Homo sapiens: one gene and its partner. The protein of the gene in region 1 purifies or fractionates together with the protein of each later gene. This does not show direct contact. Each region holds a gene or a part of one and is shown on either strand. Other genes may lie near its edges.

What was found. Proteins that work in one complex are often made in the same cells at the same time.
Region 2: the proteins of ITGB3 (region 1) and PDGFRA purify together in Homo sapiens (affinity purification with western blotting, with the first as the bait; one study listed by BioGRID). This does not show direct contact.

Annotation. Positions count from the first base shown.
Region 1 is NC_000017.11:47,256,794-47,260,387, reverse strand, and holds part of ITGB3 (integrin beta-3 precursor), read right to left. Parts: intron 1-3,594. UniProt on the Homo sapiens protein: Integrin alpha-V/beta-3 (ITGAV:ITGB3) is a receptor for cytotactin, fibronectin, laminin, matrix metalloproteinase-2, osteopontin, osteomodulin, prothrombin, thrombospondin, vitronectin and von Willebrand factor.
Region 2 is NC_000004.12:54,270,747-54,274,340, reverse strand, and holds part of PDGFRA (platelet-derived growth factor receptor alpha isoform 1 precursor), read right to left. Parts: coding exon 3,593-3,594; intron 1,948-3,592; coding exon 1,821-1,947; intron 805-1,820; coding exon 611-804; intron 1-610. UniProt on the Homo sapiens protein: Tyrosine-protein kinase that acts as a cell-surface receptor for PDGFA, PDGFB and PDGFC and plays an essential role in the regulation of embryonic development, cell proliferation, survival and chemotaxis.

The DNA of each region.
Region 1 (3,594 bases):
CTCCAAATTGTTAATTAGTTAAAGGAGTTCCAGTTGAAGGTGGTGGGGAAGGGGCAGGAGCAAATTGAAGTATTTCCCTTCATCTTCTCTGTCCCACTTTGCAGCCCCTGGGACACCAAGAGACTGATGCCTAAAGGTAAAGTCACTTGTTCAAAGTCACCCAGCAAGCTGATGAAAAAGCCTGCAGAACTGTGAATCGAATGTAGGTTTCTTAATTCCAGATACGTTGTTCTTTCCACACTGAGCTTTTTTCTATATAAAAGGAAGTACTATATATCATGGGTTTAAGTAAAGGAATACACACACACACACAAATAAACATAAATGCGAGGGGAAATGTCTAAACAGAACACACCACCTGATTAATATGAACATTATAGGGGAATAGAATTAGAAGGGAACCAGCAATTTTAACGACTGACAATGATCCTATGTGGATGAACCTATTTGAGAAATAACAATATTTGTTTTGTTTTGTTCTGTTTTTTGAGACAGAGTTTTGCTCTTGTTGCTCAGGCTGGAGTGCAATGGCACAATCTCGGCTCACTGCAACCTCTGCCTCCTGGGTTCAAGCGATTCTCCTGCCTCAGCCTCCCGAGTAGCTGGGATTACAGACGCATGCCACCATGCCCAGCTGATTTTGTATTTTTAGTAGAGACAGGGTTTCTCCATGTTGGTCAGGCTGGTCTTGAACTCCTGACCTCAGGTGATCCGCCCGCCTCGGCCTCCCAAAGTGCTGGGATTACAGGCATGAGCCACCGCGCCCAGCCAAGAAATAACAATATTTGTTATTTTGACTTTTTTAAAATGTGTATCACCTTGTTCTTTTTCTTTCTCTCCTTGAATATTTAAACATCTTCACTAACTGAACTAAGAAATTGAACTAACTCAACTATAAAACCGAGAGAGGGGGGTAAGTAAATAGTCTTTTCATGGGAACATGACAGAAAAACAGAAATAAGACATCTAGTGTTAGATCTAGTGTTAGAATTTGTCTAGCAAGCTTTCTGGTTTTGGCCAAAAAGCCACCCACCCACCCACCCTCCCAAAAAAAAGGAAAAAAAAAAAGTCAAGTGGGTTGTTTTTTCAGAGATGCTACCAAAAATGTAAAAAGGTAGAATAGCCCCCAGGTTTACTTAACAACTTCTGACTCCAAGCATCATGACATACAATATTTGGCCACAAAATATCTGTTACTCCTATGAGCAAGAATAATAAGTGTTGGTTGCTACAGAATCCTCTCTAGTATCCTGAAGTCTTTAACTACTTAGCACATGGAAAATCTAATGACTTATATATAGCTAAATACATCTATCCAATTATAAAATTTAGAAGCTGAAAGCTGGGGAGCACCTCCAAAGTTTAACGGATCCAGTCCCACTGCTTTCAGGGTAACTGTTCCAACACGGAGGATGACGGAGTGGCCTCAGACAATGTCTTAGAGTTACTGATAGATGCAGCATCATAGATTAACCCCAAATGTATTGTGCTAAGTGAAAGAAGCCAGACTGAAAGTCTATACACTGCATGCTTTCATTTATATGACATTTTGTAAAACATAGAACTGCAGGGACAGGAAATAGATCAGCAGTTGCAACCGACGAGGGTTGAGGGTAGGGTATCGATTACAAAAGAGCTGGGGGGGCACCTGGCACAGTAGCTCACGCCTGTAATCCCAACACTTTGGGAGGCCGAGGTGGGCAGATTGCCTGAGCTCAGAAGTTCGAGACCAGCCTGGGCAATATGGTGAGACCCTGCCTCTAGAAAGAAAAAGAAGGGAAAAAAAGAGCTTGGGGGAATTTTAGGGGATGATGGAAAAATTCTGTATCTTGATGATGGCAATGGTTACTTGACTATATGCATTTGTCAAAATTCATAGAACTGTATGCACTAAAAAGGGTGAATTTTACTGTACATAAATTATACCTGAATTATCTAACAAAAAAAAAAAAAGAGTGTTTTTGGTGAGACTGTGTGTGTGGACAGAAAGGCAGATGCTATCACTTTTTTGCTGGAGAGTCTCACGTTTCAATAAATGCCAGCAGTTCCCACACGGGGAATAGGCAGTTCCCCTAAACAGAGTCATTTCCCTGCTCCCACCTTCATTTCCACTAGTGGCCTGAGCTCCATCAGGCACAATGAAGGTCCCACTCAGGAAGGGCCAAGGTTCAGGAAGAGGGAGCAGAGGCGATGGGGTGGAGCAGCCCACTCTGTGGGCAGCAGAGAGGGCTGGGTAAAACGAAGCGGTTCATCCCTGAAGCTGCTCAGTCACTCCCTCGGTTAATTATCTGTCTTCTGATTCATGAGTTGTGGTTCCTGTGGGCATGCTTCCTGGAGATTTCTGCCAACAAGGGAAGAAGGGTTCTTGGGACTGGGAGGGGATGATAACCTCAGATCCCAAGTAGGGTGGGGAGCTTTAGAGGAGAAATTTCGATCAGGAAATTCTAAAGTCATAGCCAGACTCCCCCTCCTCACTGTGGTGTGCTTGCCCCATCTTATGGTCTTCCCAGGAGACCTCTGTCACTCCTCACCCTTGCCCCAACACCCACACGTCCAAGGGGGAGAAAGGAGAATGTTGCCCTTCTAACGGCTCCTCCCAGGAGGGAAAAAAAGGCAGACACTTTACAGAGGATCCCTTGAGTTTTTCACACTCTCAGATCACAGGTCTAAATGGTGCAACAGTGCAGCGGCCCAAATGCCCAAAGAATTCATGATCTTGGCTATGTTTTCATACCCTCCAGATTATCCAAACGGAGCACTTGAGGATCTTGTATGAATGAGTGCAAATATTCAAATATTGGGTTTCTTAAAGGGAGGCACATCATCTATAGATGCCTTTACATAGCATTCCACAGATATTTGTTTTGCTGCCTATGTGCCAGGCAGTGGGCATAGAGTATTGAACAAAATAGACATGTCCCTCTTCTCATGGAACTTGAAGTCTTATAGATCCTTTTATCTTCCTCTTTTTTCAGATACAGGGCTTGAGGTTTTCTTATGGGTAAAGCAAATGTATAAGCCTTTTTCCTTCTTGGCTTCTTCTGTGGATTCTTGCCGGGTTAGAGTAGCTGAGATATGCCAAACCAGCAATGAGGAACGAGTTGAAATAAGAGGGACCCCCTCTCACATATGTGGGGGAAAGGGACCCCATCAGTTTCATTCTGGAAGCCTGCATAGCGCATATGCATGAAGTAGTAACAGCTTTTGCCTCCAATACATGGCAGATAGCATGGATAGGAAGAATAATGACAATAGTAGTTGTCATTCATTAAACACTTATTTTGTGCCTCTGTTTCATTTAATCAGCATAATCATAGGCATTGTTTCCTCTGCCTTACAAATGAGGAAACTGAGGACTCAAGAGATTAGGTAACTTATTTAAGGCCACACAGCCTACAGGAGACAAAGTCAAGAATCAAACCCACATCTTACTGGCTTTAAACCATAGCCCTCCCTTTCCGAAGCCAACAAGCCTTCCTGCTGTGTTTCTCCAGGACCTGAGGATACCTGCAGAGGGCTTCGATTGGAGAGCTTCTAGGATATAAACTCCAGAAGAGAAATAAGCACCTCAGCTTAGACCTAATTAGGTCAGAA
Region 2 (3,594 bases), on another chromosome or scaffold:
CTCTTTCCTTATACAAGAAGGGGACAAAATTCAATCAGGAGAACTCAGTATTTTCTCCAAAGTTGCTCCAACAGTAACCTTGTGGACAGAATTTGAATAGGATAAATGCAATTGACAGCTACTATATGGGCAGACACCTCTACTTCATATGCTTTATTATAAAGCTTATTTTGTAAGTTGCATTTTGCTTATATTGCTTTTGGCTTCATCTATCTTTTAAGGAGCAATGAGACAGAAGATCCTTCCCCACACTCCATCCACATACACAGACATTCAAAGTAGAGACTGTAGCTATATTATTAGACAAGCAAAATGTTGAGGGGCCTCTGCAAAAATGCAGTTTTGGATCTGAATCTAAAACAACGTCCTAGGTAGAGGTTGCAGTGAGCCAATATTGTGCCATTGCACTCCAGCCTGGGCCACAGAGCAAAACTCTGTCTCAAAAAACAAAACAAAATAAAACAAAGTCCCACATGACTTTAAGAGCATTCATAACTGAATTTCTGCCTTGGGACCTTCATTTCTATATAACCCCTATCTGGGATTCAAAGTTCCGCCTGGGGCAGATGCGGCTCAGCTGATGAGTTGTCCTGACTGTTGAGGAACTCACTGGGAGCCACCAGCTTCAGCTCTCGGTTCTCAGCTCCAAGGAGATTCTTAGCCAGGCATCGCACGGCGATGGTCTCCTCCACTTTGGCGAAAGTCACACGGCCCTCCACGGTACTCCTGTCTCGGGAGTGGATCTCCGTGATGATGTTTGAGACATTGTTGGCCAAAATAGTCCAGGAAGTTTCATTATTACATCTAGAGAGAAAAAGGGCCTAAGTATAGGGCCAATTCCTGAGAGTCATGGCAATGAGTGGAGCCACGGGAACACTCTAAGATGGCAAGGAGTTGGGACCTTGTCTGCATTTCGGGGCAATACACACTGATTTATTTTACATGCAGATGAACATTAAAACTTGTCTGCATGTGCTGAAGAGGGAATAACTCACACATGAACAACTGAAAGCTAAGTGTTTACATAGCAGGCAGAGATAATCAAGTTTAATAAAATATGACTACCATTCCCCAATCTTGAACCTATGAGCAAACTGAACAGTTCAACTTCAACCATATTTAATGATCTCAATCTCCCACCCCTTCAAAAAGGCCTGGAGCCCTCCCTTCTCAACACTCACACTGGGAAGAGCCCCTAGGGTGTCACTAGGGTTGCGATGATCCTCAGATTGAGTTATAAGACCTAGAATCCTGCTCCACACTGGAATCTACTAGAAACCCCAGTCAACATCCAAGTCTGTTCTTAGCCCTAGAAGTTAAGATGAGGAGTCTCTGTCTAGAGGAAGAAACAACTGAGGCTTCTGAACACAACCAGTTACCATGGATGAAGTGTAAACACATTGCTCATGTGCCCATTTAAGAAGGCTGAGGACTCGGGGGAGGGAGGAGGGAATGGCGAATTAACCCACCAAACAGCAGGTGGGCAGATAAGGGACTAAGCAGTCACATTTATGTTTACATGCAGTCCGACTACCAAACAAAGTTCACCAAATAAGATATGTGAGCCAGGGTAGTAAAAATCTTCTTAGAACAGTGGTTCTTAAAATTCACTCTTGTTTTTAGATTGGAGACATTTTGAAGGTCTAATGAGAGCCCTGGACCTTCTTCTCACAGCTATTCATGACAAAAGATACACACCCTGAAGCTATCACACCCAAAACCCTATCTTATAGTCAATAAGTAAAATGTATTTGACATCATTTGTGTCAAGGGAGAAATATTCTGACCACGAAAGAAGAAGACACATCTGTTTTCCATACTTCTTAATATCTTTGCATATCATCCACTCAATATCAGGAAGCGGCGTGCCTTCAGCTGTGCACCTCACCGTCTGTCCCCCAGTTGAGCCATGGTGATCATCGACCAAGTCCAGAATGGATGAAGGAACTGCAAGAGGCAGAAAGAAGTCAGAATGGAATAGCTCGTGTCCCAGAACATATGAGACTACAAAGTGGAATATGAGTTCACAACTCATCTACATGGCATTCAAAACACTCCGGAGGGGCTGAAACCAGTTGTACAAGTAACACTCCAGTTTAGACAGACCCACATGGTTAGCAGCATTTTCACAGTTTTGGTGTTTTGAGATTTATCCCTGTGATGTTTTTAACCTGGAGTGAAGAAAGTGAAAAGTCCATGGTTGTGATGCCTCACACATGTAGCCCCAGCTACTTGGGAGGCTGAGGTGGAAGAGAAACACTTGAGCCCAGGAGTTTGAGGCAAGCCTGGGCAACATGGTGAGAAGAAAAATGGGAAGGGAAGGGAAGGGGAGGGGAGGGGGGGAGGGGGGAGGGGAGGGGGAGGGGAGGGGGGAGGGGAGGGGAGAATGAAGGAAGGAAGGAAGGAGAGAAAGGAAAAGAGAGAGTGAGGGAAGAGGGAAGGAAGGAAGAAAGGAAAGAAGGAAGGAAGGAAAAGGGAGAACAAGGGAGGGAGGGAGGGAGGAAAAGGAAGGAAGGAAGGAGAGAAAGGCAAAGAAAAGAGAGAGTGAGGGAGGGAGGAAGGAAGGAAGGAAGGAGAGAAAGGAAAAGAAAAGAGTGAGTGAGGAAGGAAGGAAGGAAAGAAAAAGAGAAAGGAAAGGAAAAGAGAGAACAAAGGAGGGAGGGAAGAAGGAAGCAAGGAAGGAAGGAAGGAGAGAAAGGAAAAAGGGAAGAGGGAAGGAAGGAGAGAAAGGAAAGGAAAAGAGATAACAAGGGAGGGAGAGAAGAAGGAAGGAAGGAAGGAAGGGAGGGAGGGAAAGAGAGAGAGAAAGTCCCTTGGTTATTTGGCTTGAAAGGCAAGGAGGTTCTTAAAATTATATTATAGCTTAGGATTCAACTAATGGATTCAGCTAAAGTATAATCTAAAGCAGCATTTACCAAAATGCATCTGTGGTATGTTATTAGGTTTTAAAGATTCTTTTCTAAATCTGTGGTCAAATAAATTAGATATACGGTGTTGCTTGTATCACAGGTTTTACTGTGAGGATCACATGAGCGCACCTCAGACAGCACCTGGCTCATGGCTGGGACTCTGGATAGGTGCTGAGCCTGAATGTAAACAGACTTGGGCACTCCCTTCTGGTAAGGACCACTGTACAATGTCTATAAGGAAAACTTGTAGCAAAACTCTCCAGAACAATCTAAGGTCATCTGCTTCTCTCTTCTCAGATTGAGAAGCAGGTGCTAAGTAAGCTGGTGGAGGCCAGGTGCAGTGGCTCACACCTGTAATCCCAGTACTTTGAGAGGCCAAGGTGGGAAGATAGCTTGAACCCAGGAGACCAGCCTGAGCAACATGGCAAGACTCCATCTCTACAAAAATAAAGCTAGCTGGTGGAGCCTAGGGATTCCTCGCCTACTCTAGAGTAACCCAGAACCTCCCAGAAATACCTGAATTCATGAGTCCAGCAGAGGTATTCCCGATATGTGACATATGCAGACACTGCTTCTCCCCTAAGTGCTGCTTTTCTTCCATGACCGGGGAGAAAAGTGCCAGGCTTTCCTTGGAAGACACTCATCTACAGAGCTAGCATTATCTTTATACTCCCTTTACATACCT